Linked DNA regions of Homo sapiens. The protein of the gene in region 1 purifies or fractionates together with the protein of each later gene. This does not show direct contact. Each region holds a gene or a part of one and is shown in the gene's direction. Other genes may lie near its edges.

Region 1 (3,113 bases):
TGCATTTTAATAATTATTTTAAAAAACAAACAAACAGCTTTTTACTAAACCCCAGGGGGATTCCTGTGCACAACAGAGTTTGAGAAACACCTAGTTAAGTGGCTGTGTGCAGTGAGTGGGGAGGGATGAGGGCTTCCAATGAAGGTTGAGTTGCTGTGGAGCTCTGGTTACATTGCACAAAAAACCCACTCAAGTGAGCTGGAGACCCAGGATGGGAAGAATTGGAGTACAGTCACCCCTAGGCAGCATCCCTCCCTCTCCCTGGACTGTATTCTAGGATCCTCTCTGCCTCTTACCTCCTGCCATTCCAAGGCCTCCTTCTGAACCTGGCCTCAACCCAGTCCCAAGTTTGCACCGCCCGAGGCAGCATAGGGGTCCCTCCATTTTGATTTCCTAAAGAGAATAAGACTGGCTAGTTCAGAACCCTAAGTCCAGGGCAGCCCAATCAGCAGTGGAAGAGGCTCCACAGCAGTGGGCCTGACCACCTTCCCCTCTCCTAGGTGCAGGCGGAGCTGAGGCGGAAGTGGCGGCGCTGGCACCTGCAGGGCGTCCTGGGCTGGAACCCCAAATACCGGCACCCGTCGGGAGGCAGCAACGGCGCCACGTGCAGCACGCAGGTTTCCATGCTGACCCGCGTCAGCCCAGGTGCCCGCCGCTCCTCCAGCTTCCAAGCCGAAGTCTCCCTGGTCTGACCACCAGGATCCCAGGGGCCCAAGGCGGCCCCTCCCGCCCCTTCCCACTCACCCCGGCAGACGCCGGGGACAGAGGCCTGCCCGGGCGCGGCCAGCCCCGGCCCTGGGCTCGGAGGCTGCCCCCGGCCCCCTGGTCTCTGGTCCGGACACTCCTAGAGAACGCAGCCCTAGAGCCTGCCTGGAGCGTTTCTAGCAAGTGAGAGAGATGGGAGCTCCTCTCCTGGAGGATTGCAGGTGGAACTCAGTCATTAGACTCCTCCTCCAAAGGCCCCCTACGCCAATCAAGGGCAAAAAGTCTACATACTTTCATCCTGACTCTGCCCCCTGCTGGCTCTTCTGCCCAATTGGAGGAAAGCAACCGGTGGATCCTCAAACAACACTGGTGTGACCTGAGGGCAGAAAGGTTCTGCCCGGGAAGGTCACCAGCACCAACACCACGGTAGTGCCTGAAATTTCACCATTGCTGTCAAGTTCCTTTGGGTTAAGCATTACCACTCAGGCATTTGACTGAAGATGCAGCTCACTACCCTATTCTCTCTTTACGCTTAGTTATCAGCTTTTTAAAGTGGGTTATTCTGGAGTTTTTGTTTGGAGAGCACACCTATCTTAGTGGTTCCCCACCGAAGTGGACTGGCCCCTGGGTCAGTCTGGTGGGAGGACGGTGCAACCCAAGGACTGAGGGACTCTGAAGCCTCTGGGAAATGAGAAGGCAGCCACCAGCGAATGCTAGGTCTCGGACTAAGCCTACCTGCTCTCCAAGTCTCAGTGGCTTCATCTGTCAAGTGGGATCTGTCACACCAGCCATACTTATCTCTCTGTGCTGTGGAAGCAACAGGAATCAAGAGCTGCCCTCCTTGTCCACCCACCTATGTGCCAACTGTTGTAACTAGGCTCAGAGATGTGCACCCATGGGCTCTGACAGAAAGCAGATACCTCACCCTGCTACACATACAGGATTTGAACTCAGATCTGTCTGATAGGAATGTGAAAGCACGGACTCTTACTGCTAACTTTTGTGTATCGTAACCAGCCAGATCCTCTTGGTTATTTGTTTACCACTTGTATTATTAATGCCATTATCCCTGAATCCCCCTTGCCACCCCACCCTCCCTGGAGTGTGGCTGAGGAGGCCTCCATCTCATGTATCATCTGGATAGGAGCCTGCTGGTCACAGCCTCCTCTGTCTGCCCTTCACCCCAGTGGCCACTCAGCTTCCTACCCACACCTCTGCCAGAAGATCCCCTCAGGACTGCAACAGGCTTGTGCAACAATAAATGTTGGCTTGGATTGGCTTGGTTCCCCTGGTGGTTGATATTCTCATATGGCCTAAAATGGGACCAGCTTCCAACTTGGAGCCATCTTCCTCCACCCAAAGGATGGGTGATCTAATACATTACTGAAACCAGATGCCTCAACTCTTTTGGCTTTTGACAGAAATCCATATTTTCATATGAGGCATTCACAGTTCTGAGGGCCTTCAGCTCCCATCTTTTTGAGTGGTATCCTCTCTCCTCTGAGTGTGATGAAGACCAGGTCCCCATTGTGTCCCCCCACTCCTTAAATCCAGCCAAGAAAAGACCATTCTAATCTCAGATCAATACAAAACAGCTGGCAGAGCTGCCCAGGGTCCCAGAAATGGTTGAGTGTGAGTGTTTCACAGGCCGCAGACATTGCTGCAAACAAGGGTCTAGGATGACCATGTTGCAATTACCCAGGGCTCAGCTAAGAGGAGGTAGGTAGTGGACAAAACAAATGTCACCAACACAAGTTGAGTGAGCAGAGACAATATGGCACTAATAAAAAGGTTTAGACACAGAGGCAGTATGGCAAATATCATCAGTCAGCAAGAGATGTCTCCAAAGCCGTTCCCATGCTGACCTCCTTGGGTCCCACCTCCTGCAAACTTGCTAGAGGAGCAGGAGAGGGATGTCAAGCTGGTAAAATGTGGTCAGAATGGGCTGGCAAAGGCTCATATCTGCCTGCCCAGCTACTTCAATGCCTTGTCTGACCCAGTACCATTCCAGGACCCATCATCAATGACAGTTCCAACCCAGTATCCTCAGAGGCCAGAGTCAGGGGTGTTCAGGCCAGAATAGAAGTGACTGTGAGCCATGGGCAGAGGCACCCCCAGGGAAATGCCCTTTGATCAGTTGCCCAGCATATCCAGGAGTGGCACGGTCTCTCCATCTAGATTCACACTCCATGCCCTGCCCTGTGCATGGTCAGCCATAGGATCGAGAAGGAGGCGCTGTTCCTAACCTTGACCTCAGGTACCCCCAGGCCTGCTAGAGAGAACATTGTCAGTAGCCCCCACCCCTGCCCAGACCAACAGTGGTGACCACCAGTGAGGTACTGGTGGTGGAGAGCTGAGCTGGGGCATCTAGAACTTCTTTCATTCTTCCCTGAGCGTCTTTTTTTTTT
Region 2 (4,145 bases), on another chromosome or scaffold:
ACAACTGGAGGTACTTCTTCAAGTCCACCGTGCTGGCCAGTGTCCAGAGGGGGATCGCTGAGGAGCAGATGGAGAATGAGCCCCAGTTCAGTGCCATCATGCAGGTAACGTGGGGGCGGGGTTGCTGCCAGGTGACTTCCTCTAACCTGACCACTGCAGCGAGTCCTGTCTTCGAAGCCCCACAGTCTCGGGTCTGAAGCTCAGTTCTGCCTGTTAGTATTGATGAAGTTAATTAATTTCTTGGAGCCTCAGTTTCTTCATCTGCAAAGTGGAGCTAATGTTGCCTGGGTCACAGGTTTGTTGTGAGGTTAAATGAGATGACATACACAAAGTGCATGACACTTGGAGATGCTTGATAAACGTCAGTTCCGCTGACCTCATAGTGCTGTTTCCCCAAGTGTAAAGAGCCTGCCTATGCCAGAGTCACCGAGGGCCTTCTTAGCGGGGAGCTGCCTGAATATGAGTCTCCGCAGGAGGGCCCCAGACCTGCACTGTGATTCTGACTCTGACCATACTGGGAGAAACACTGCCCTGGGAGGGAGCATTCGCTTTCAGGGCAGATGCAGCTGTCCATTGGAGAGAGTGCACTGTCTGGGGGCTAAATACCCCTTGCTGTGGAAGACTGGGACGGCATCACCTCGCCCAGACAGCCAGCCTGCTCTGTGGCTGTGTCAGGCACGCTCCCAGGGTCTGCACTCAAGTGTCTGACGTTCTCATCTGAGTCTAGCTAGGGGAGTCTCTTTTGGTATTTTCAGTGCATGCTTTTCCTCATGGGGAAGCAAGAGGGATTTCCACCCTCCCTCCAGCTCCCTACTAGCACACAGCATGCACACAGGCATGCACGTGCGCATGCGCGCGCACACACACACATACTGACTCTTGTGTGGCAGTTCTTTTCAGGCACGTGCCCTTGCCCTGGCCTTCCCATCCCTGGCACCCACCGAGGCCTCAGGTCTGCAGTACTCAAGTGTTTGCGCCTCCCCTGCCTTTCTCTTGAACCCTGTCCTTGCCTGGAAGACTTCTTTGGCACGCTGGTGCCTGGTCCCCACTGAGGGCTGGTGAAAGGCACTTTGGAGAATAGTTTCACAGTTTGGCAGTTTCTTTTAAAGTTAAGTGTGTAGTTACTGTATGACCTAGCAGTCTCACTTCTAAGTATTTTACCCAAGATAAATGAAAGCATATGTTCACACAACCTGTACACTGATGTTTATAGAAGCTGTTTCATAATTGCCAAAGCTGGAAACACTTTGAGTATCCAGCAGCTGAATGGATGAACAGGCTCGTGCATGCCTCTAAGGGACTGGCACTCGGCAATAAGCAAGCATGGATTCTTGGTACAATCAGCAGCATAGATGAGTTTCACATGCATTCTGTCAGGTGAAAGAAGCTAGATGCCAAAGGCTATGCATGGTAGGATCCCATGCCATTCTATGACATTCTGGAAAAGGTAGAACCACAGGGACAGATAATGAGCAGTGGTTGCCTTAGGGGTGAGGGTGTGAGGGGACGTTCCAGGTGATGGAAGTGTCCTGTCTTGGTTGTGATGGTGGTGGTACAAATCCACAGGTAGGTCAGAATTCATAGAAAGATAAACCTCAAAAGTTTACTCTGTTATACTTCCATGAACCTAACTTTAAACAGTAAATAAGTGGAAACTATTGGTCATCATGGAGATCTCATCCCTGCTGCAGGGATTACAAGATCCTCCTCTGGTAGCTTAGGGGCCCAGGGACAGAATGACAAAGCAGTCACCACTTGTTTTGTAGGGGGGTCCTGCAGACCACCGGCCTCCCCGACTGCCCCCATGGTCACTTTCTATTCTTTCTGTTGGAGCAGGGCACTTTGTGTTGGTGTGCGGGGTGTTTCTTTTTGCCCCTGAACTAGTAATTTTTTTCTTTTTTCTTTTTTTGAGATAAGTCTTGCTCTGTTGCCTAGGCTGGAGTGCAGTGAGTGGTAGGATCTCAGCTTACTGCAATCTCTGCCTCCTGGATTGAAGTGATTCTCCTGCCTCAGCCTCCCGAGTAGCTGTGATTACAGGCGTCCGCCACCACGCCTGGCTAATTTTTGTATTTTTAGTAGAGATGGGGTTTTACCGTGTTGGCCAGGCTGGTCTTGAACTCCCACCCTTCAGTGATCCGCCCACCTCGGCTTCCCAAAGTGCTGGGATTACAGGACTGAGCTTCTGTGCCTGGACTGAACTAGTAACTTTTACACCCAGGAATTCCAAAGCAGTTTAAAAATACTTTGCTTAGCCCCCAGGCAGAGGCTTAACCTCCAGGTGGAGGCTCCATGAAGGAGCCTGTAGGGCTTGTGGCTTTTGAGACGGGGGATGCAAGAAGGAGGGCAAGGGAGGGGATTGCTTGGCTTGAGCAGGAGCAGGCAGGCAGGCTTTGGTGTCTGTCTGCCAGGATTGCTGAGGGATTTGACTAGAGGTGTGAGCTTCTTGCTTCAAAGCCAGGTCCTGTGATGGGTTTCTAGAGGTTTGTTAAAAAAGGTATATATGAGACCATAATAAGAAGCAAGGCCCGGTGGGGAAAACATGAACTCTGAGACTTAGGAGGAGCGTCGTAGAGGTCTGAGCTGGTGGGCCAGAAGCATCAAGACAATGGGTACCCTGGCCCTGGCACTTGTTCTTCTGACATGGGGTAGATGCTCCAGAAGTGCTTGGTCTTGCAGTTTATAAAATGGTGGTCTCATTTCCTAGGCTTTCGGACAGTCCTTTCTCCAGCCCGACATCCACCTTTTTAAACAAAATCTCTTCTACTTGGAGACTCTCAACACCAAGCAGAAGCTGTACCACAAGGTAAGTGCCCCAGCTCTTGGAAATATTCTTCCATCAGGGGCATTGTGGCCTGTGTCCCACCCTCAGGTTACTCACTGGAGAGTGTGACAGAAAGTGGATGGGACCCGGGACAGGCCCCTGGGGGCTGGCTGCTGCTCACCTGGTCTCTCTGCCTGCAGAAGATCTTCCGGACTGCCATGCTGTTCCAGTTTGTGAACGTGCTGCTCCAGGTCCTGGTCCACAAGTCCCATGATCTTCTGCAGGAGGAGATTGGCATCGCCATCTACAACATGGCCTCAGTCGACTTTGATGGCTTCTTTGCCGCCTTCCTCCCAGAGTTCCTGACCAGCTGTGATGGTGTGGATGCCAACCAGAAAAGTGTGCTGGGGCGGAATTTCAAGATGGATCGGGTGAGGAGAGAAAGAGGCCGGGCTAAGAGGAGGGCAGAGTGGGCACGCAAGCCTGGCACCTGTGCAGCAAGGAGGGGGCACATTGAGGCCTCTGGGCGTGGTCTGTGCCCACCCTGCAGCTTGGCGGCAGCTCACGAGATGCCTGCTGACCTGGTGCTGTAGCCTGATTGAGGGGCACAGCCTTTTCCCCAGTCTTGGTGTCTGTAGCACGTATGTTCTTAGTCTCAGCCATGGAGGTCCCGAGTTCCTGGCTCTGCAGCCCCTCCATTTGTCTTGGCATCTTTGTTCATACCCAGGACCCTGCCGTTCTCCCTCCTGGGTGATGAGCCCCGGTGGGGCCAGCATTGGAGTGTGCCCAGGCTTGCATTCAGGCTGAGATGGTTGGTGCTTGGGAGCTGCACTTCTGGGTCCCCAGGGTTAGAGGTGGGACCCAGGTTCCCCGGCTGTCTTGGGCTCTTTCCAGACCAGCCCCAGCTCAGCTTGGGCTGAGTTGCTGCCAGGTCCTGGGAGGAGCCCTCCTAGTACTCACCCTCTTGTCCCACTGCTGCCACCTGTGCAGGGACTGTCAGGTGGGCTGTCCCCACCCGTGCAGCACCTCGGTGGGAGCTGGGTGCTGCTGGCTCTTGGTGTCCATGAGGCCATCTTGTTGGAGCCTGACAGTGCCTGGGACCTCCTTCCCCATGGGGCTCACCTGTTCTCTTCTTCCTGTGTCAGGTGACCAGGCCTCTCTCTTGCCTGATAGGAACTTCTGGGAACTTTTCCTTGTACCGTTTTATACTTGATGAAATTAGGAAAAGAAATCGCTTTCTCCCTGGTCCTCTTGGGGTTCTTGACCTGAGTCCTCTGTGAAGCAGCTTGTCCACGGCTCCACCGTAGTGCTCAGATGCACACACTGCTCTCACTGGTGCAAACCTGGCCGCCTGCTTTCCTCATTTGCCACGTGTGGCAGGGAA
Region 3 (4,400 bases), on another chromosome or scaffold:
ACCTTCATGTTGCTGTTTGCTTTATTTCCCCCAAACATGTAGATATGAACACACTGATTTTAAAGACTCTTATAGACTACCTACTAGATGCCAAACATTTAGAACAAAAGCAAAAGCTTTCAGTGGAATATATTTCTAAATACTCACATATTTAGTTTTGGGTGCATCATTTGAATGCTTTGTCATCCAAATGAATCCTGAAAAACTTAGTTAACTAAGATTTCACTTAAGTGATAGCACTTGTCTAAATGGGCTTGAAAATCGAAGCTGTTAATTAATTTCTAAAACTTTAATCTGGATATTAAAAACCATATAGATACAACCTTGAATGACAACAGAAAACTAATGGAATTGTTCTTGTCATTGTCTTCCATTTTAATAACTTTTCATTTTAGTACCTAATATAGTATGTGTCACATAACACATGCTTATATGTCTTTATTGTTGAGTGAATGCCACTGATTTCAACAGTTTGAGAAAAGATGTTTTATCTGTCTTCAAATGTATTTATTCCTTCATTGAAAACTTACTTTCTACTCTGTACACTGGAAAATCAAAAAAGTAATGTGTAACTCCGGTTTTAGAGGGATTCTATAATTATGTTTACATTTGGGGAACTCCATTGATGGATTTTAAGAGCAGTTTTTTATTTTGCTGTACTCTATTAAAAAATACCACCACTTCTAAGCAGACGATTTCAGACCTGTCTGTGCCGCAAAGCAAGTAATTTACATGCTCTCTCTAATACATGAAGGCGATGCTACTATTTCATCATCAAAATCACATGTGCTGGACATTTTTATTTTACTAGTAGTAACAAATTTGTCCGCATTCCTCTTATATTTCCCTTTTACTTGACTTTCTAGCTCTTGTTTTAGAAGTGGTGTTTGTGGTTATGGAAATGTTGTGGATGATATTGACAAAACGCAGCCAAATCGGGCAGATCACTTGAGGCCAGAAGTTCAAGACCAGCCTGGCCAACATGGTGAAACCCCGTCTCTACTAAAAATATAAAAATTGGGTTAATAGGTGCAGCAAACCACCATGGCACATGTATACCTATGTAACAAACCTGTGTGTTCTGCCCATGTATCCCAGAACTTAAAGTAAAATAAAAAATAAAAATACAAAAATTAGCCAGGTTTGGTGGCAGGTGCCTGTAATCCCAGCTGCTTGGGAAGCTGAGGCAGGAGAATTGCTTGAATCTGGGAGGTGGAGGTTTCGGTGAGCCGAGATCGTGCCACTGCACTCCAGCCTGGGTGACTGAGCGAGACTCTGTCTCAACACACACATACACACACACACACACACACACACACACACACACACACACACACAGAATCCCAGCCAAGTAGGAGTTCATTTCCATCAGGCTTCAATTAGTTAAGGTAATCACAGCATGAATCACCTATTAATTTTTCTTGTCCATCTTAGTAATGGAAACTGTTATATATCAGTCTATGGAAGCAAGCAGTATGCTGTTGCTTTTCACATTCTTATCGACTTTTTTTTTTTTTTCTGTTTTGAGACAGAGTCTCGTTCTGACGCCCAGGCTAGAGTGCAGTGGTGCGACCTTGGCTCACTGCAACTTTCACCTCGTGGGTTCAAGCAGTTCTCATGCCTCAGCCTCCCGAGTAGCTGGGATTACAGGCGTGTGCCACCATGTTCGGCTACTTTTTGTAATTTTAGTATAGATGGGGTTTCACCATGTTGCCCAGGTTGGTCTCGAAATCCTGGCCTCAAGTGATCCGCCTGCCTCGGCTTTCCAAAGTCCTGGGATTACAGGCCTGAGCCACTGTGCTCGGCCTCTTATGGACTCTTAAAGTTTAAATATTTCTGAGAAAGGCCTCTGCTGCTGTTACGCTGACCTCACTGGTAAGTATAATTAGTATTGACTTGAGAGAAGATTTGAGTTAATAAGGCTATTTTAGAGGCTGGATTTGAATATGTGGGTCACGTCTCTTATTTAGACTTTTAGTATTATTTAGACTTTTATTTAGACTTTTAGTATGAATCTCTCTCTTCAGAGACATGTGGTCCCCTGTTATTCTGGGTGTGTATGGATGTGATGTGTTGTGGAAAATCTTGAAATTTCTTGATACGGGACTTTATACACCCAAGACTGAATCATGAAGCTGGAGCATTCTAGTGCTGCAAATGTCATGAATTTAATTTTTCACCGTATCCCCATCCTCCTGCAAAACATAAAATATAAAATATGTAAAATGAGATAAAAAAATGAAAGCAATACCCACACACCCATTCTGGCACTGCTGCGTACTAGCCCCCCTCTACAGAACTGAGCCTAATCTGGGATTCAGTATCGGGAAGGCGAGTGATGCGAGAACATTCCATGACCTTTGTAACAGGAGCTTAAAAAAAAAAAAAAAGTCCCAACTGTGTTATATTCATTTTTGGAATATTTGGTGAACAATACACAACAAAGAATTTGTATGTCCCTTGTTGATTCTTACTAGTTTTTCCCACAGTTGTGGGGAAAATTCTCTTCTTTCCTTAACCCATTTTGGCTTCATCAAGTCCTCCTAAGTCGTCCTACAATTATATATATATATGTATTCCCACCATATGTATATATAATTATATATATACGTATATATATGTATGGTGGGAGTATATCTGTGGCTAAGGTGAGAGGATCGCTTGAGTCTGGGAGGTGGAGGTTTGAAAAAAAAAGAATGGAGAAATCACATGAGTCCTTTAGTTATCACTCCCATCATTGCTTCTCCCAGCAGGAGACTCTCTGAAGACCAGCAGGAAAGCAGTGAGCCCTTACAGGTTAGTGCTGATTTCAATCTTGGCTTGCACGTTGGAATGGAAAAAGGACTGATAAAAAAAAAATGTTGACAGTGGAAAGATTTGTGCCTATTCCATATTAGAGAGGGAAGAGTTCTTCTGTTAGAAGGGAACACATTCAGTTTAGTGTCCTACCATTGGCCTAGTAGAAGAAAAAAATATTTTAAAAGAATCTTTACTGGACTTCAATTCCTATAAGATATTGCTCTTCCATTGCACAAGGAAGATTTCCATGAAGTTACGGAGTTGAGTATCACTGATTCACTTTCCAGGTTCCTGGTTCTTGTGAATGTACCTTTTAGAAAATTTTTGATAATCATTCCTGAGAGGTTGGGTGGAGGGGGTTTTGGACAAGAAATTGATTCACAGTTTTTAGTCTACTCAGGCAGATTATTTAAAGGAATCCTGGAATGAGTCCATTTTTCCTAGGGGAATCACTTCACAAGGTTTTTGTTCAATGGACCTCAGGTGCTCCAAATTCTTTAATCATAATTCTTCACGGCACACTGCTATAATACCATGATTGGTTCTTACATGGGCAGTAAATAGTATTCATTTTAGGTCTTGGGTTGGGTGCTGGGTGCATGTTCATTATATTATTATTTAAAAATATTATATAAGTTAATAAAATTTTAAATGAACTTTCCATAAGTCAATTCGTAAATAAAATTTTCACAAATTTCTTCTGTGTGTTTTTGCTTCAAGTAGAAAACATCTCTATTTCTATTTATTTTATTTTATTTTTTTTGAGACAGAGTCTCACTCTGTCACCCAGGCTGGAGTGCAGTGGCGCGATCTCGGCTCGCTGCAAGCTCCGCCTCCCGGGTTCACGCCATTCTCCTGCCTCAGCCTCCCGAGTAGCTGGGACTACAGGCGCCCGCCACCACGCCCGGCTAATTTTTTGTATTTCTAGTAGAGACGGGGTTTCACCGCGTTAGCCAGGGTGGTCTCGATCTCCTGACCTCATGATCTGCCCGCCTCGGCCTCCCAAAGTGCTGGGATTACAGGTGTGAGCCACCGCGCCCGGCTGAAAACATCTTTATTGAAAAAAATTTTATGCTTCAGAAGGGTGGCTTTTTCTTTAGATCGCGAGTTTTTTCCTTCCTGAAATTCACTTTATATTCACTCCCGCGGTGTTCCTTATCTGTTCTAGCAAAGAGTACTTATTATTCATACGCGGCGCTCATAGTTCGCAGAATATTTGCAGCTTGCCAAGGTACTTGTCCTGACAAAAATTCAAATGGCAACTCTTCATGATAATTTGTATCAAAGAGTACTTATTATTCATACGCGGCGCTCATAGTTCGCAGAATATTTGCAACTTGCCAAGGTACTTGTCCTGACAAAAATTCAAATGGAAACTCTTCATGATAATTTGTATCAATGTGGGTATGAATTCCTGTGGGAAAAGCCTGAGCTCAAAGCTTTAGGCTACTCTGTATGGACTTTTTGTTTAATGATCATATGAAACAATACAATTTTATATTTATGTTTGAATTCACCAGCAAGTTTTAAGTGGTTTCTTTAATTCAGTTGTGATTTAAGCAATTGTTTGGGAGACGTCTTTGCTCTTGAGTTCTGGGGAA
Region 4 (4,400 bases), about 81 Mb from region 1:
AGGTAAGTCTCTCTGTGTTTTTTCTTCCTTTCCCCAAGCCCACTTTGTTACCTTCCTTGGTTGCTGGATGAGAAATTAGTCAGAGGGTCAGAGAGGACCTCAACTTCATATGCTTTAAATAGAGCATATGCAATTTTAAACCATCCTCTTAACCAATTTTTCTTTTCTTTTCAGTTTTTCCCCAGTTATACTTCCACATGATACACCAGAGAAGAAAGATCCTTTCTCATACTGAAGAACACAAGAAATTTGAATAGTTCCTGCTTTCTGCACCTCCCACCAAAACAAACTTTTCAATGATCAAAAAATGCTGCAGATTTTTTGAGTTCCCAATACGTTTCATAGAAAATAAGTAAGAACTATTTTTAAAATATTCAAACAAAACTAAAACAAAAATCCAGTGTCACATGGGCCTGAGATTTTATTTTAGAAAAAGGTTGTTACATAAAACACCCTGGCCAGTTCATTTCAGCATGCTCTTTCAACCAGAAGTTCTTAATATTTATGATGGCACTAGAAAGGGATTTGGCATTTTATGTCCTTCTGTGTCCTTCATGTATCTGATCAATGAAGACCTGTAACACTAAGTACTTGAGAGTTACAGTCTGAATAATGAAGTCGTACCAGCTGAATAGCCCAGCTTGCAGTATAGTTATGTTTCAGTCTGCAGTGTGTTTAGCATTCCCTTGTCAAAGTGCTTGACTGCATGCTGGAAACTTTGTATTTTTGAAGCGGCAAACTCTGTTCTCTGGAATGCTCTGAAGTTATGGCTGGGACCTATCCCCTCACATCTAATGAATGAATTATAAAATGTATATGTCTATGAAGCTTCGGGGTAGTGCCTGTAATCAGAAAACAACTTAGAACCCTTTTGTTTGTTTCCAATTGAGTCATTACTGCCTGCCACTAAGAAACGTGCTTGAATCTAATAAGTATGTGTGTACCGTAAAGAATATATCTTATCTGGAGCTCAGCCTCAATCATGTCTTAACAAAATGACAGGTCTCAGAAAGGGGGAGCTCAATAGCTCAAAAGTGACAAGTCCTTTTCACAGCACCATTCTCAGAACACCTCTGAGTAACGTGTTTGCCAGTAGCTATTCTCACTGATGCACTGATGGCCCTGAAGAAGCGGATCCAGTCACATAGGAAAGGAGGCTGTGTTAGTGAAAGCACATGGAAGGTGTTGCTTTAGAAAGGTAGTCAGGAAAAACATTCAGGAATAGATTTATACACCATTATTGTTTTATTTTTAAATTTTCATTCACTCTTCTGTTTGGATACTTTTGCTAATTAACTTCCTATGTTAATTTCCACCAAGCTATAAGTCCATAGTCAGTAAAACATTCCCCTTGGGCTGTCATGAGCTAAAAGCAGTGTCATCTCCGCATGTTGGAGCAGCCAAGAAATAGTTTGGTACTACCGACATTGTCTAATCCATGTCACATCCTCATACAATTTAATTGCTCAACCATGCATTTAAAACTCCTCAAGAAAGGATTGGTACTGCAACTGTAGGTAAACTGAAAAAAAATAAGAAAGAAAGAGTTGGATGAAAATGTGAAAGCCCAAGTTTAGATGTGCATTAAGTATTAAATAGCACAGTATCTTCTTCATGGAGCCTTTTTTCCTCCCCCATCCCCTGCAGCTGCCTTTTTTTGGGGGCAGGGTGGGGGTTGATGTTGAACTTTAAGAGTTTAAAAGTTTAGCTTATTGAGTAGTTGTCATTTAAAATATAATTGCGAATATCAGAAAACTCATACTGGAAAACTAAATTTTTTTTTTCTCTTGAGACGGAGTCTCGCTCTGTTGCCCAGGCTGGAGTGCAGTGGCGCGATCTCAGCTCACTGCAAGCTCCACCTCCCGGGTTCACGCCATCCTCCTGCCTCAGCCTCCTGAGTAGCTGGGACTACAGGTGCCTGCCACCACACCCAGCTAATTTTTTTTGTATTTTTAGTAGAGACGGGGTTTCACCGTGTTAGCCAGGATGGTCTTGATCTCCTGACCTCGTGATCCACCCGCCTCAGCCTCCCAAAGTGCTGGGATTGCAGGCATGAGCCACTGCACCCAACCCCTGGAAAACTAAATTTTTAAGTGCTTATTTTTATAGAAGTTTGAAAATTTAATGCAGGCAGGTGTGTAATAAATTATTTTTGAATTGAACATTAAAATTCTGCTTCTTAAAGTCAGCACTCAACTTGGACATGTTGAAATTAGAATCTATTCTTGTATTTGATAGACAAAATATGTGGGAAAGATTTTTTGCATGACTTTTCTCTCATTTTATTCTTCCATAATGTATTTCTACTATAAAATAGAATCAACTTGGGTTATATTTGTCATTTACTTTGTTCTGTTAGATTTTTTCAGTTGTTTTTGGAAAAATTCTAGAAATCAGGATGAAAAATGCAGCTTTTCCAGGGTTGCTGGACTGGGGGTTTTATTTGGGCCTCCTTATTATAATTTGTCACTACTTATAAAAAACATTCTGTTGCAAACAGTGGTGTTGCATTGAATTGAACTTTGGCAATGAGAACACAGCACACAGCTCCCTTTTCAAAAAGGGTCTCAACCCCAGTGTGTATTTTTGTACATCAACATTTAGAATACTTATGGCAGATAAGTAAGGCATGTCACTGTGTCCTTCAGTAACCTCTCTCAGTAACTGGTTTCTTTATCCCTAACATGAATTCATTTCTCCTTTGAAGTCATTTATTATTTTATAAATTGAGAACAACCACACCACCAAATGTCACACCTTCTTATAAAGTGTGAACAAGGAAGGTCATGTTTTTGTGGGTATTTTGTCAGACTTAGAGGTTTCATTTCAGGGCATAGTCAAAGGCATCATCCTCCCAACTACCCACTTGATTATGTATTTCAGATCCCTCCGTGGGGGCCTTCTTCTGACAGAGAATTCTTTGAGGTCCGCAGTAGTGCTTTTGTCAGCACAGACTGCTAATCTACATCTTGCTGCGTTCTGTTTGCTGAGGTTGGGCTTATTCATTTAACACATACCAACCATTATCCAGAGGCACCATGGAGAGTTAGTCATGGAATAAAGCACTGTCCTTGCAGATGAAAAAAGTCTCCAGAGCAGACTTCTGACAGGAAAGGTTTAGATGCTGGAGAGTTGAAGAGGTGTAAGAAGAGATCGTGCCCTCATTTTTCACTTATTTTTTTGGTTATTCATTTATAATAAAAGGTTGGCATTGATATGGTACAACCTGCAAATTACTTGCAGTTCTGAGTTTCAGATAAAACATTATAAAACATTAAATTCAATACATACTGCTCCTTTGAAATTTGGGTAAAAAATTGTACAACCGTATATATAGTCATTTTTGTATTTTTTCTATGTTGTGAAAACCAAAATTGTAATTTTATAAGTCTTTGATTCACTAAAATTATATAATTTAAATGTATTTTTTGTATATTTAGAAATAAGGAGTCCAGAGACTACGCTTAACTTTCTATGCATGCATTTGAAAGCTGTTTTTACCTGATAATGTAGTAATAAGTTGTATTCATAAAATACTGATCTGTGTTGCATTTCAAAATAAACTGGTGTGTGCTCTGCCTGGATTTGAAATACCTACCAGTGAGTGCAGTGATTTTTCATAGTCAGTAGGCCTGAATGTGGTGTTGCAGGAATATGGGAGAATTTCAGTTCAATTATGGACTCCAGCTCTTTGACAATTTTAAAATCTAATTCTGCTATTCATAATGGTTCTGCACTTACAGGAAAGACAGATTATATTAAGAGGTTTCCAAAAAGTCCTTCCCTGCCAGTCAGTCTTCAGGCTAAGCCAGTCTGCAAGCTGGCTGCAGAGGGACAAGGGGTTCCTCATGCAAGTGACCAGGGAATCTAAGATATTAATCAGCATGGGGTTGAGGAACCTTGTCTTATAACAAGCTGGGGTTTTGTTAGTGTAACTTTTCTTTTTTTGTTTTGAGACAGAGTTTCGCTGTTGTTGCCCAGGCTGGAGTGCAATGGCACGATCTCAGCTCACTGCAACCTTCACCTCCCGGATTCAAGCGATGTTTCTGCCTCAGCCTCCCAAGTAGCTGGGATTACAGGCACCCGCCACCACACCTGGCTAATTTTTTGTATTTTTAGTAGAGATGGGGTTTCACCATGTTGGCCAGGCTGGTCTCGAACTCCTAACCTCAGGTGATCCACCCGCCTTGGCCTCCCACCACGCCTGGGATTACAGGTGTGAGCCACCACGCCCAGCCTGTTAGTGTAACTTTTCTAACAGAAGTTCAGCGGGAGATCCTGTTGCCCAGCACTGTTCATCTTACATTAAAGCAAGATGTGGTGAAGTTCAAGTACCTCATTCTGAAAATGCCTCCAAACACAGGAATCCCAGGAGTGGCCCCCCCTTACTCAGGCTCGCA
Region 5 (4,400 bases), on another chromosome or scaffold:
AGTGTCATCCATGAGGCCATTTGTGTAACTTGCCTATCTGTCTGTGTATGTATGAGTTAGCTTGATTGTTATGTCAGGGAAAAGACTTACATTAACTCTGATGAGGTGAATAACATTTTTAAATATGAAAGCCATTGTAAGTGGCTTTTAATCTTTAGAATTTTATTAGCTCAAACCACAGAAAACATCTTAGGTGGTTTTTAAAAATTTTTTTAAATTTTTATTTGTTTTGAGACTAAGTCTCACTGTGTTTCCCAGGCTGGAGTGCTGTGGGATGATCACAGCTCACTGCAGCCTCAATCTCCTGAGCTCAAGCCATTCTCCCACCTCCTAAAGTGCTGGGATTGCAGGTGTGAGCCACCGTGTCTGGCTTTAAAATAATCTTTCTGTTCTATAATGCAGTGTTCTAAATCAGGAGAGGCTATACATTGATTTCAGTGGTGCTGCTGTGACTCAGCCACGTCGGGACCCCTCTGGAAACTGATTTTGGACTAGCATTGTCTTTTTTACCCCCACCACTAGTTTTCACCCTGCTAGGATGAATCAACATTTTAGAAACAGTCAGTCACATTTGGTGATTTGGTTGGTATACCAACCCAAACATCATTGTTTTATGCTTAAAAGGCATGAAAATATGCTTCTGTATTTATGTATGTTCTTATCTATTATTCCCATAAGATTGCACACGCTGGGGGGACCAAGTCTTGACCAGATTTACCCAGTGTTTCATTCTTACTCTATCTGTAAGCCCAACTTCATATGTGGATTGTGTTGACCAAATTAAAAAGTATACTTTAGATATTTACAGGAGAGATATAGCCCAGAATGAATAAACCATCTTTTTTTTTTAGTAAGTAGCCTGAAATGTAGATGATGATGCATTCTTAAGAAATCCAGGTGCCAGGCTGGGCGTGGTGGCTCACGCCTGTAATCATAGCACTTTGAGAGGCTGAGGCAGGCAAAACACTTGAGGCCAGGAGTTTGAGACCAGCCTGGGCAATGTAGTGAGACCTCATCTCTAAAAATAAATAAGTTAAAAAGAAAGAGAGAGAGAGAGAGAGAGAAAGAAAAAGAGAAAAAGAAAGAAATCCAGGTGTCAGTTCAGAATTGTTCACAAAAAAGAGGAACCCCCAAATCCCCAAGAACTTAGGCTAAAAATCGTTTATGTGACTGATACAGTTTGGATGTTTGACCCCTCCAAATCTCAGTTTGGATGTTTGACCCCTCCAAATCTCATGTTGAAATGTGACCCCCAGTGTTGGAGGTGAGGCCTAGTGGGAGGTGTTTGGGTCATGGGGGCAGATCCCTCATAAATGGCTTGGTGCCATCCCCTTGGTGATGAGTGAGTTCTCACTGTTAGTTCATGGGAGAGCTGGTTATTTAAAAGAGCCTGGTACCCACGCCTCTCTCTCTTACTCCCTCTCTTACCATGTGACATACCTGTTCCCCTTTCACCTTCCACCATGATCATAAGCCACCTGAGGCCCTCACCAGAAGCAGATGCCAGCACTGTGCTGGCTCATACCTGTAGTCTCAGCTACTCAGGAGTCTGAGGCTGGAGAATCACTTGAGTCTGGGAAGCCAAGGTTGCAGTGAGCCACGATTGCACCACTGCACTCCAGCCTGGGCGACAGAATGAGACCCTGTCTCAAAAAAAAAAGAAATCTAGAAATAAAATGACTACAATTTAAAAGTTACTGCACGATTGGCCAGGCTCATTGACTCACTCCTGTAATCCCAGCACTTCGGGAGTCTGAGACGGGTAGATCACTCGAGGCCAGGGGTTTGAGACCAGCTTGACCAACACAGTGAAACCGCATCTCTACTAAAAAAAAAAACAAAAATTAAAAATAAAAGTTAATACATGATAATCATGGGAACACTGAATATTGATTTAAGCAAAAATCTTAACTATTAGAAGGATGGAGAGAATAAAGAGAGGGATTCAAGACCAGCCTGGGCAACATGGCAAAACCCTGTCTCTACAAAAAATACAAAAATTAGCTGGGTGTGGTGGCTCACGTCTGTGGTCCCAGCTACCTGGGAGGCTGAGGTGAGAGGATTAATTGACCTCCACCCAGAGGTGGAGGTTGCAGTGAGCTGAGATTGTGCCACTGCACTCCAGCCAGGGCAATAGAGTGAGACCCTGTCTCAAAACAATAACCACAAAAAAAGAGGGAATGTGGTATAAGAGAGCTGAATTCTCATTCCCCATAAGAGAATGTAAATAATGTCTAAAAATGATTAATAAGATATCAGTATATTATTATATGGAGATGTATAAATTCCAAAACAAACAACTAGAAGAATTTAATTGCCTCTCTGAAGGAAGATTGGATAAAATAGAGAGGAGTGGGGCAAAAACTGCTATATTTTGTCATTTATACTATGTGATTTTTTAAACTATGTGCATGCTTTGCTTTGATCGATTAAAAATTTACTATTAGAATATTTAATGCTCGGTGGCTTACGCCTGTAATCCTAGCACTCTGGGAGGCCAAGGTGGGCGGATCACCTGAGGTTGGGAGTTTGAGGCTAGCCTGACCAACATGGAGAAACCGTGTCTCTACTAAAAACTCAAAATCAGCCGGGCGTAGTGGCGCATGCCTGTAATCCCAGCTACTCAGGAGGCTGAGGCAGGAGAATCACTTGAACCCGGGAGGCGGAGGTTGCAGTGAGCTGAGATTACGCCATTGCACTCCAGCCTGGGCAACAAGAGTGAAACTCTGTCTCAAAAAAAAAAAAAAAAAGAATATTTAATGCATAGCTATGAATTTGTTAATTGTTGAAGCTTAGTGATATGTTCAGATTCAAGCACAGATTTCTGAACATATTAGATACAGCTGAAGATGCAATTAATGCACTAAAAGATAGGGACCACCAGTATACAAAAAGACACTGTTAGCACTCTGGAGATTCCAAGGGTCTTGGATGCTCTTGTATCAGGAACCAGGGACTAAGACACTATTATAACAAAAGACATTCCTATCATTCAGGAAATTACAAGAATTTTACCAGGAGCTCTGTGTCAGGAGCCTAGGATGAGGACCAGATATATACTTTGCATCATAATATCACAGCCCATCATTTTAAAAAAACCCTAATAAATGATCATCTGTAAGACATTAATTGTAGGATATAATTAATATCCTATATAATATATAGCTTCCTGGAGGTATTTACCTTTTTATAGAGTTTTCCTGGAAAGGACAGTGGCCAACCCAGAGGTAGTGTGATGATGTCAGGTTAGATGATAGTATATAATAATGAAGTTTGTTAATAATGTATTTTTTTTGTAGTTAATGGCCTCTGTTCAAACTATACTCATAGGACCCATTCACACTCCTAAAAATTTTCACCAACCCCAGAGTCTTGCTTATGTGGTTATAACAATCAATATTATTGTGTTAGAAATTAAAACTGAGAAATCATTGAGATATTTGGTTTTGTTTTTTGGTTTTTTTTTTGAGACAGGGTCTCACTGTGTACCCAGGCTGGAGTGCAGTGGCACAATCTCAGCTTACTGTAGCCCCAACAGCCCAGGCTCAAGCAATTCTCCCACTTCAGCTTCCCAAGTAGCTGGGATTACAGGCGTGCACCACCACGCTGGCTAATTTTTTTTTTTTTAATTTTTTTGTAGAGACTGGGTTTCTACATGTTTCACCATGTTGCTCAGGCTGGTCTCGAACTCCTGGGCTCAAGCAATCCGCCCACCTCGGCCTCCCAAAGTGGGGTTACAGGTGTGAGCCTTTTTGTTTGTTTGTTTTTTTAAAGAGATGTGGTCTATGTTGTTGGCCATGGTGGTCTTGAACTCTTGGCCTCAAGCAGTCTTCCTACCTCGCCCTCCCAAAGTGCTAGGATTACAGGCATGAGCCACTGAGCCCGGCCAAGATATTTGTTAATTCATTAAAAATCATTAAAAATACATTAGCTGGGTGTGGTTGCTCATACCTAAAATTCCAATGTTGTCTCGCCTCTACAAAAAAAAAAAGGTAAAATACATCCATTACATGTTAACATACATAAGCTATATTTTTTAAACCATATTTTCCAAAACGTCATAAGATGAATGGCATTGATGTATAGTTTTGCAAACCTCTCTTTGACTTGATAGAAGATAGCTGGATCCTTTTATCTGCTTCTGAATTCAGTCTGTTGCAATATCACACATTTATGCATAGCCTTTGGAAAATTTTGCTACACACTGTGAGAGAATAAGAATGAGAAAGGCAAATAGCATTTTATTATTTCATAATGATTCTTATGAAAAGGTTTTTAATCCTACAAAACCTCCTAGAAAGGATTTGGGGACTTTTAGGGATCTCCAGACTATAGTTTGAGAATCACTAGACTGTATTATATCTTGTGTTCTGATGTCTTTTACAAAAAATATTTGCCTC
Region 6 (4,400 bases), about 27 Mb from region 1:
AAGTCCACCGTGAGTATATTGTTCCCCACTTTTTCGGTGAGTCAGCCTTCCTCAGAAACCACACTTCAAAAATAGCTTTTTCGGCTAGAAAATTGGAACTCAGTGCAAAGCTGCCTGTACTCCTCAGGAAATATTTTGCTGCCTCTTTGGTGGTTCTTTTTGGCCTTGCAGCCTGACAGGAGTCACCAAATGTGGCCTTGAGTTGATCCGAGGATTTCTGTTATGGCAAACTTTTATTGCCAACTTTGCAATTGGTGGCCTTGGACAAATTTATTAACTTGTATATTCTTTAGCTTGCTTACGTGTAAAATGAGGTGGGTTAGCAAGATCCTTCCTAGCTCTAAAATTTTGTGAGATTTTTTTTTCCCCTTTCAGTAACTTGTGGTAAAACTATAGACATAGCTACTGAATCACGTTGGGAAGTTTAGGACCTGTATCCACACCCACTAATAGCCACCTTGTTTCAGAGAGAAATGAGAGTGCAGAGGGATTTTCCAGGATGATCCTTGGTTATAGTAGGTTACTTAGAGTGTGGGGGAAATCCTTAAAGCCGGTTAACATGACAGAATGGGTTCTACTGTGAGTTGCTGCCACAACTGGCACCCTTGTTTTCTTGTTTCTCTCCTGGATCCCTTTGGATATGTTTCTTCTCTGGGCCTCAGTTTAGTTATCTGTATAATTGGACTAGACTGATTCATCTTTGAAGACTGCTACAAAATTTCTGTGATGGGATTCTAAACCTTTTTATAACCATAAATGACTGCTCTAGAATGTGTAACTATTATAGGGAAAGATTTATTAATTATTTATTGGAATTGGGTAATACATGTTCATATTTTAAATATATATAATTAAAATATATACAAACATATGTATTAATATATTTTTAATTTCACAATAGAAAAACATAACGGTTTTTGAGTTGCAAAACTAGGTCCTGCTGTTTCTCCCTTCTTTCTCACCATCCCTCGTTCTTTTTTTTTTTTTTGAGACGGAGTCTGGCTCTGTCACCCACGCTGGAGTGGCACAATCTCAGCTCACTTCAACCTCCACCTCCCAGGTTCAAGTGATTCTCGTGTCTCAGCCTCCTGAACAGCTGGGATTACAGGCATGCGCCACCACGCCCAGCTAATTTTTATGTTTTTAGTAGAGATGGGGTTTCGCCATGTTGGCCAGGCTGGTCTCAAACTCCTAGCTTCAGCTGATCCACCCACCTCAGCCTCCCAAAGTTCTGGGATTACAGTTATGATCCACCGCACCCAGCCCTCTTTCTTACTCTAGGACTATCAGTAAGTGAAACTCCACCCAGCAGACCACAGAGGCAGCTGTCTACATGAAAGATGGGTGGCATGTTTATGGAAAGTTTTGTCCTAAAAGTCTTTGGGGTTTGTCGTGATTGCTGTGATAAACAGCCCAACTGTTGACTAAAAAGCATCTCAGGCAAGAACTGGTTCCCAGATTTCTGAGAATTTCTGTTAATCTGTAGAGGGTGTGTGTGTGTGTGTCTGTCTGTCTGTCTGTCTGTCTTTTGTTCCAAATACAGGTAAGTGCCAGGGCATTGGAGTGGTATACATTTTATCAGATACAGAAGAAAATAATTTCTGCTCAGAGTAACTTCGTTAGTTTTTTTCCAGCTTGGAAACTTGCTTGCTTTCTAATTATAGACTGTTGTTGGGCAGGTTATGAACTAAAACCAGTTCTATAGAACTTCAGGCTCTGTTCTTTTCTCTTGGACATGAGCAACCAGAACAGGTGAAACAAATTTGGAATTGCTTGAGTTAGGCCTGGATTTTTCATTGTTCCTTGTCCTGGACTTTAGGCACTCAACCTAAATATGTATTTTACTTGTCTAGAGGAAAATAAAAACAGCTTGACATGAATTTTGTTATATGCTTCACTTCATGAATTATTATTTTAATAAGTATTCCAGAATGAACTGAGTAGGAGCCCTTTGATGCTTTGCTGCCAGCCAACCCACTCCTACTTGCAGGGTATGCAAAGGAATTTCCTTGAATTTCAATCCTCCATTTGAGTTCTTTGTGTTGATTTGATCTTTGTTTTGCTTTGCTTTTTTTTTTTTTTTTTTTTTTTTGAGACGGAATCTCGCTCTGTCACCCAGGCTGGAGTGCAGTGGCACAATCTCGGCTCACTGCAGCCTCCGCCTCCCGGGTTCAAGCAATTCTCCTGCCTCAGCCTCCCAAGTAGTTGGGATTACAGGCACATGCCACCAAGCCAGGCTTAGTTTTGTACTTTTAGTAGAGACGGGGTTTCACCATGTTGACCAGGATGGTCTTGATCTCCTGACCTTGTGATCCACCTGCCTCAGCCTCCCAAAGTGCTGGGATTACAGGTGTGAGCCACTGTACCTGGCGATCTTTGTTTTTCTTTACGGCTCAGAAGAAACATTTGGGTAGGTTATAGGTCAAAGTCAAGGCTTTGTAAAGGGTTTTTTACATTCAGGAGCCTTTCCCCAATTTCATTTGTTCATTTTTAAATACCAATTTTTTTTATTCATCAAGGAATACATGGCCATTGAAAAAAATATGAAAATAAAAATAAGCAAATGGAAATAAACTCCCCTTATCCTACTATACTGTAGTCTTTGGTATAATTTTTCAGTTTCTCTAAGTATCTTTTTATTTTTTAATTGAGACAGGATCTCACTCTGTTACCCAGGCTAGAGTATAGTGGCACCATCACAGCTCCCTGCAGCCTTGACCTCTGAGCTCAGATGATCCTCCTACCTCAGCTTTCCAAGTAGTGGGGACTATAGGTGTGTGCTGCCACACCTGGCTAATTTTTGTGGGGTGTTTTTTTTTTTTTTTGGAGAGATGGGGTTTCGCCATGTTGCCTAGGATGGCCTCAAACTCCTGGGCTCAAGCGATGCATCCGCCACCTCGGCTTCCCAGAGTGCTGGGATTACAGACATGAGCTACCACACTGGCTTAGAATCTTTTGTGATGCTGGGAATTAGATAATATTAATCTATAAGAGTTTCAAGGCCTCTTCATTCACTCTCCACTCTCTACAACCTGCTGAAGGGGATTGTGGTTTTGATTCATCAGATTCTTTCCTTCCTCAGGCGTATAAGGGAATTTTTTCTTTCCCAGACCAATTCCGGGGTTGTCTCAGAAGACAGGGCATAATCCAGATAAAATAAAACAGAAAGAAAGTGCAGAGAGGCCAAGTAGACCCAGGTAACACAGAACCAAGAGGGAGGGGAAGAGGGCAGAGAGAATAGCACATGTGCTGGGTATTGGGGAAGGTTGGGGCACTGGGGTGCTATAGACTGGCACAAGAGGATCTGGAGGATGAGCAGAAAACCAGGATTTGGATTGGAGAAGGAACAGCTTCGCTGTGGTTCATGAACTGAAATTCCATTAATGTTGTTGGCGAGATGGGACAAGTAGAGATGGACTTTTGTGGTTGGTCTGTGCCAAGCGGCGGTTGTGGGTTGGAGAGCAGCTGCTTTTATGTTTTTGTATTTCCTTTTTTATATATTCATTTTATTTCTGATTATGAAATAATATACTAATTATAGAAATTTCTATTTCTTTTTTTTTTGGAAACAGAGTCTCACTCTGTCACCCAGGCTGGAGTGCAGTGGCGCAATCTCGGCTCACTGCACCCTCTGCCTCCCGGGTTCAAGTGATTCTCCTGCCTCAGCCTACCAAGTAACTGGGACTACAGGTGCCTGCCACCATACCTGGCTTTTTTTTTTTTTTTTTTTTTGAGACATAGTTTTGCTCTTGTTGCCCAGGCTGGAGTGCAATGGCACCATCTCGGCTCACTACAACCTCCGCCTCCCAGGTTCAAGCAATTCTCCTGCCTCAGCCTCCGAGTAGCTGAGATTACAGGCTCCCGCCACCGAGCCCAACTAATTTTTTGTATTTTTAGTAGAGACAGGGTTTTACCATGTAGGCCAGGCTGGTCTTGAACTCCTGACCTCAGGTGATCTGCCCGCCTCAGCCTCCCAAAGTGCTGGGATTACAGACATGAGCCACCATGCCCAGCCCAGGCCCAGCTAATTTTTGTATTTTTAGTAGAGGTGGGGTTTCACCACGTTGGCCAGGCTGGTCTCAAACTCCTGACTTCAAAAGATCCACCCACCTTGGCCCCCACAAAGTGCTGGGATTACAGGCTTGAGCCACTGTACTCAGCCTAGAAACTTCTACTTCTGAGCTATCTAACTTATATGATAAATCTACCTAACAGACAATGCATTATGTATTACAATTGCTTTTACCCACTCAATATATAATGTCTTCCCATATTATTAAATGCACTTCAATGTTTTAAAAATAGCTGTGTATACAATACCACAGCTATTGGTATTGTTGGCCATATAGGTCGTTTCTGAAAGTTTTTAATCATAAATACCACTAATATCAATACTGTTA
Region 7 (4,400 bases), on another chromosome or scaffold:
CTGTGCTGGCATTTTTTTAACTCTAATTTTGTGTTTTAGAGAGTTTTACTTTTTATTTTTTATTCATTTTTATTTATTTATTTATTTTTAATAGAGGGTCCCCCTGTGTTGCCCAGGCTGGTCTTCAACTCCTGGCCTCAAGTGATCCTTCCGCCTCAGCCTCCCAGATTGCTGAGATTACAGGCATGCACCACCACATCCAGCCAGGGCGTTCATTTTCAAGGATGGGTGCACTTCCTCGGGCCAGTGACGGCGGCCATGTGTGAATTTTGTTTCTCTGTGACTGCTTGTCAGCCATAGGGATAGGGCGTGCGGTTCGATTCAGGGCTTGACTGGCCCTGGGAGCACGAGGCTGAGCTCTCCTTCTCTGGATTCATTCAGGGTAGCAAGGACAATTATGGGGAACATCCAGAGGAAAACGTTTAGATCCACAGACTCCGAGAAGCCCTGTGCGAAGATGTGGCAGCTCATGCGGTCTGGAAATTGTTTGGGAGAACACTTGGGGACCCCTTACCCTGGCGAGGTGCCTGTGAACGTTGCCGCCTGTCTGTGGGAGACGCTGAAGCAGCTTCGGATGACCACACTTGCTAACCAGTTCCCGAGCTGGGGGCCACTGTGATGTTCTGAGAGTTTTTATTGTATGCTTGTGTCTTGGAATGGGGTGCCTCAAATGAGCCTTCTCAGTGACCTGAGGACTTTATGTGTGAGGTGACCTCTGACCTTCAGATACCCCAGGTTTCTGGAAGATGCCTTTCTCCATCATCCTGGATCGGGGCTTTCCCAGCTTTGCCTACACCTGGGAGGCGCGAGTAGCCAGATGAAGTCTTTCTGGTCTTGCTGGTCAGAGCCAGAAGGGCCAGTGCCCGGTCCAGGAGCCTCTCGCAGGCCTTGGGCTGCCCATCCAGGCGTGGCCTTTCCTTGGCCCTTTGGACGACGACGCCGCGTTTTCCTCTTGGTCTCGGCCTCCCTGCCCACCATGAGAGTGGACATGAGAGTGACCATCTCCAAGGAGGCAGCTGGGTCTTTTCCACTCCCCATGGCAGGGAGCCAGCTGTCTTCACGCCCTCACCCTAGTGAAGTGGCTGAATTGCCAGGATTGATCACAGCTCTGTTCTGTGTCTGATCACAGGACATACACCGTCCTGCAGAGTCTGCAGGCGGGTGGGAGGAGCCATTGAACAGACCTGGCGTCCTGGGAGGGACACGGAATTCTTCCCTTGAGAGTCTCATGCTATCTTGAGCGGCACTCTGTCACTTCCAAGATGTGTAGACGTCGTGCTGCGTGTAGGACAAGGACTGGAGCTCACTAATACGGACCTTACTTTCCAGGAGCGTTGGATTTGAGCAGCTCTGAGATGTGTCCTCCTGCAGGGCTGCTGTGCCTGGTGCCCTTTCTCTGGGTCCCTTACCCTCTGCCTCCCTTCCTGTTGGGTCCTCTTCATTCCCATTTCTGCTTCCCCAGGGCCAGGAGGGTGCTGGGCACTCGGTGGCCACCTCAATGACAGTGTGCACATTTACCTGAAGGGGCGAAGGGTTACCTTTATATTTCAGGTAATCTCTGTGTTTTGGGGAAATGGAAAGATGGTGTTGGGTTAGGGTTGATCAATGATCAGCGTTTCCCTGGGCTACACAAGGAGTGAGTGTTGGGTTGGTGGCCACTTTAGAAACCACAGGAAGGTCTCTGTCGTGGAAAGTCGTATTAAAGGAGTCAAGTTTTACGCCTGTAATCCCAGCACTTTGGGAGGCCGAGGCAGGTGGATCACGAGGTCAGGAGTTTAAGACCAGCCTGGCCAATATGGTGAAACCCGGTCTCTACTAAAAATACAAAAATTAGCTGGGTGTGGTGGCGGGCGCCTGTAATCCCAGCTGCTTGGGAGGCTGAGGCAGGAGAATCGCTTGAACCTGGGAGGCAGAGATCGCGCCAGTGTCCTCCAGCCTGGGTGACAGAGCAAGACTCCATCTCAAAAAGAAAAAAAGAAGTCAAGTTTCAATTTTAACTTGTGTTAGTGTGTGATCCTGTCTTTGTGTGCTGTGGAACTTGGTGCTGGTGGGACACAGGCTGCTCACCCCATCCCTTGAGCTTTGCGTTTATTCCTGGGATTCTGCATGTGAATGGGAGCCTGTGCTGTATCTGGGAGATGCTGACTGGGTTGCAGGCACGTCCGAGGGTCAGGGTGGGGCCGAGTGCAGCCTCCTCCTCCAGTGGGCCTGTGTGTGGAGTGGTGGCATTCTGGGTGTCCCTGAGGCCTGGTCGTTTCCATCTTCTTCCTGAGCCCACATGGAGATGACGAGGGGTTTCCTGCTGGTCTCTTGCAGAACAGGGTTGAGTGGTGTCCTCACGTTGATCTAGCTTCTGGGTCTCCCATTCTGCATGTGAGCAGGTTGATGGGCTGTTGTCTCTTCCACGGTTAGCCTCCCTTAGGCTGGGGCTCCTTCACCCCTCTTTTCTTAGAGACATTACTGCCCAGAGTGAGAACCCCTCACGTGGGGTGGCCGTGTGGTTCCAAGACAGGGTCCTGTGGAGGCCCTGTTAGCTTCCCCACTGGAGGCCTCCCTCACAGCAGGCTCCTGTCCCGGCATCTGCACTCCAGCCAGGCAGAGTCCTGCTCCCGTGCACACCACACCCTGTCTGTCTGTGCTGTGGGCCCTTGGCGGGGTTCTGGGTGTCTGGAGCCCCTTGACCTTGTTCCTCCTACAAGGTGACCTCGTCAGGAAGCCCCAGGATGAGACTGTCCCTGGCTCCTCCAAAGGTCACTTCAGACATGTGCACCCTTTGGAGAGGTCCCTGCTGTTTCTCAGAACTGCTGGGGATGGAGGCTGAGCCCGAGAGTGCTTGCTCCTCGCGCTCCCTTCTTGCTATGGTCTCCGGAGATGCCTCCCAGGCCACGAGCCCTCCTGGCGTGGTTTTACTGGGACCTGGCTTTGCAACAAAAATAGTTGTTTTAACCTCCCTAACCACTCCCATCCCTCTTTTGTTTTTCTCTATAACGTGTAGGGTTTCTTAGCTCTCCTGTATTGGTCTCACTCCACTGGAAGGAAGGCTCAGGAACGCAGGCTGTGTCTTCTCCCGGGTGTGGCTGGGGCGGGGGCTCAGGGAATGGCTGTGATGGCCCAGTGTCCAGGAGGCTCCGGGCCCCACCCCCCGCCTTGCTGCATGACCTTCACAGTGTCACTTACCGGCCCTGACTTGCCTGCGGGCACCACGCACACGGCATGAAGGTGCCCTGGCCCGGGGCACGGACACAGCCAGAGCCACCGCGCTCCTGGCTGTCATCACGTCGTTGGCTTTGCGATCTAAACCTGCTTGTTGTTTTGGTTTTTCTTTCTTTCTGTTTTCTTTCATTCTTTTTTTTTTTTTTTTTTTTGAGACAGAATCTCACTCTGTCACCCAGGCTGGAGTGCAGGGATGTGATCTCAGCTTACTGCGGTCCCCGACTCCTGGGCCGAAGTAATCTCCCCTCACCCTCCCTCTTCCCAAGTAGCTGGGACCAGACATGCGCCACCACATCCAGTTAATTTTTTTTTTTTTTTGGTAGAAATAGGGTCTCACTATGTTTCCCGAGCTGGTCTCCAACTCCTGGGCTCAAGTGATCCTCCTGCCTCAGCCTCCCAAAGCTCTGGAATTACAGGTGTGAGCCACGGTACCTGCCCCCAAACACTCCTGACTCTTCTTATCCTAACCGGGGTCATCTTACTCTCCTCACCGAAATCTGATGTCACCTGTATGGAGGAAAGGGTGGGCCTCATGGAGGGGCAGGCCAGGGACAAGGGGACTCCTGGGCCCCAGCTGAGCCCAGCCCGTTTCCCCTCAAGGGCTGTCTCCAGGAGGACACGTTCTGTAAGTGTAGTGTTCAGCAGAGGGTGAGTTTCTGGGTCGCCGAATCCAGGCACCCTTAGGAATGGGGGCCTAAGAGGGCCTTCTGACGTGGGTTCTCTGCTGTGATTGTGGGCAGGTCTCTCAGTACTGAAGGGCCCCACGGTGTGGAGCTCAGCAGGAAGGCTGAGGTTCCCTGCGGTTTCCTCATGGCTTAGGACTCAAATGCAAATGTATCTAAAGAAAAAGGTGGTTGATAGTCACAATGAAACTTTTATTTACCTCTGGTTGTCTTAAATGCCTAGTATTGTAAAATATGGCAGAAGAATTCACTTTCATGCCTGTAATCCCAACACTTTGGGAGGCCAAGGTGGGCAGATCCCTTGAGTTCATGAGTTTGAGACCAGCCTGGAAAACATGGCAAGACCCCGTCTCTACAAAAAATACAAAAAAATCCAACCTGACCCACATGGCAAGACCCCATCTGCACAAAAAATACAGAAAGTTCCAGCCTGGAGCCTCCACCTGCAGTCCTGCAGCTCCACCCTGGCTCTTCATGAAATCGGCTAAGTCCAGGTGTGGGTGC

The links.
Region 2: the proteins of VIPR1 (region 1) and XPO6 purify together in Homo sapiens (affinity purification with mass spectrometry; 2 studies listed by BioGRID and IntAct, with this or other methods). This does not show direct contact.
Region 3: the proteins of VIPR1 (region 1) and SLC7A2 purify together in Homo sapiens (affinity purification with mass spectrometry; 2 studies listed by BioGRID and IntAct, with this or other methods). This does not show direct contact.
Region 4: the proteins of VIPR1 (region 1) and HACD2 purify together in Homo sapiens (co-immunoprecipitation; 3 studies listed by BioGRID and IntAct, with this or other methods). This does not show direct contact.
Region 5: the proteins of VIPR1 (region 1) and SLC25A17 purify together in Homo sapiens (affinity purification with mass spectrometry; 2 studies listed by BioGRID and IntAct, with this or other methods). This does not show direct contact.
Region 6: the proteins of VIPR1 (region 1) and ARL6IP5 purify together in Homo sapiens (affinity purification with mass spectrometry; 2 studies listed by BioGRID and IntAct, with this or other methods). This does not show direct contact.
Region 7: the proteins of VIPR1 (region 1) and PTDSS2 purify together in Homo sapiens (co-immunoprecipitation; 2 studies listed by BioGRID and IntAct, with this or other methods). This does not show direct contact.

The regions. Positions count from the first base shown.
Region 1 is NC_000003.12:42,535,590-42,538,702, forward strand, and holds the end of VIPR1 (vasoactive intestinal polypeptide receptor 1 isoform 1 precursor), read left to right. Parts: intron 1-500; coding exon 501-692; 3' UTR 693-1,979; downstream 1,980-3,113. UniProt on the Homo sapiens protein: G protein-coupled receptor activated by the neuropeptides vasoactive intestinal peptide (VIP) and pituitary adenylate cyclase-activating polypeptide (ADCYAP1/PACAP).
Region 2 is NC_000016.10:28,100,505-28,104,649, reverse strand, and holds part of XPO6 (exportin-6), read left to right. Parts: coding exon 1-104; intron 105-2,704; coding exon 2,705-2,803; intron 2,804-2,961; coding exon 2,962-3,192; intron 3,193-4,145. UniProt on the Homo sapiens protein: Mediates the nuclear export of actin and profilin-actin complexes in somatic cells.
Region 3 is NC_000008.11:17,499,507-17,503,906, forward strand, and holds part of SLC7A2 (cationic amino acid transporter 2), read left to right. Parts: intron 1-1,807; exon of another isoform or gene 1,808-1,875; intron 1,876-2,750; 5' UTR 2,751-2,796; intron 2,797-4,400. UniProt on the Homo sapiens protein: Functions as a permease involved in the transport of the cationic amino acids (L-arginine, L-lysine, L-ornithine and L-homoarginine); the affinity for its substrates differs between isoforms created by alternative splicing.
Region 4 is NC_000003.12:123,490,745-123,495,144, reverse strand, and holds the end of HACD2 (very-long-chain (3R)-3-hydroxyacyl-CoA dehydratase 2), read left to right. Parts: exon of another isoform or gene 1-174; coding exon 175-257; 3' UTR 258-3,591; downstream 3,592-4,400. UniProt on the Homo sapiens protein: Catalyzes the third of the very long-chain fatty acids (VLCFA) elongation four-step cycle (condensation, reduction, dehydration, and reduction).
Region 5 is NC_000022.11:40,808,698-40,813,097, reverse strand, and holds part of SLC25A17 (peroxisomal membrane protein PMP34), read left to right. Parts: intron 1-4,400.
Region 6 is NC_000003.12:69,094,530-69,098,929, forward strand, and holds part of ARL6IP5 (PRA1 family protein 3), read left to right. Parts: intron 1-4,400. UniProt on the Homo sapiens protein: Regulates intracellular concentrations of taurine and glutamate. Negatively modulates SLC1A1/EAAC1 glutamate transport activity by decreasing its affinity for glutamate in a PKC activity-dependent manner.
Region 7 is NC_000011.10:452,826-457,225, forward strand, and holds part of PTDSS2 (phosphatidylserine synthase 2), read left to right. Parts: intron 1-4,400. UniProt on the Homo sapiens protein: Catalyzes a base-exchange reaction in which the polar head group of phosphatidylethanolamine (PE) or phosphatidylcholine (PC) is replaced by L-serine. Catalyzes the conversion of phosphatatidylethanolamine and does not act on phosphatidylcholine.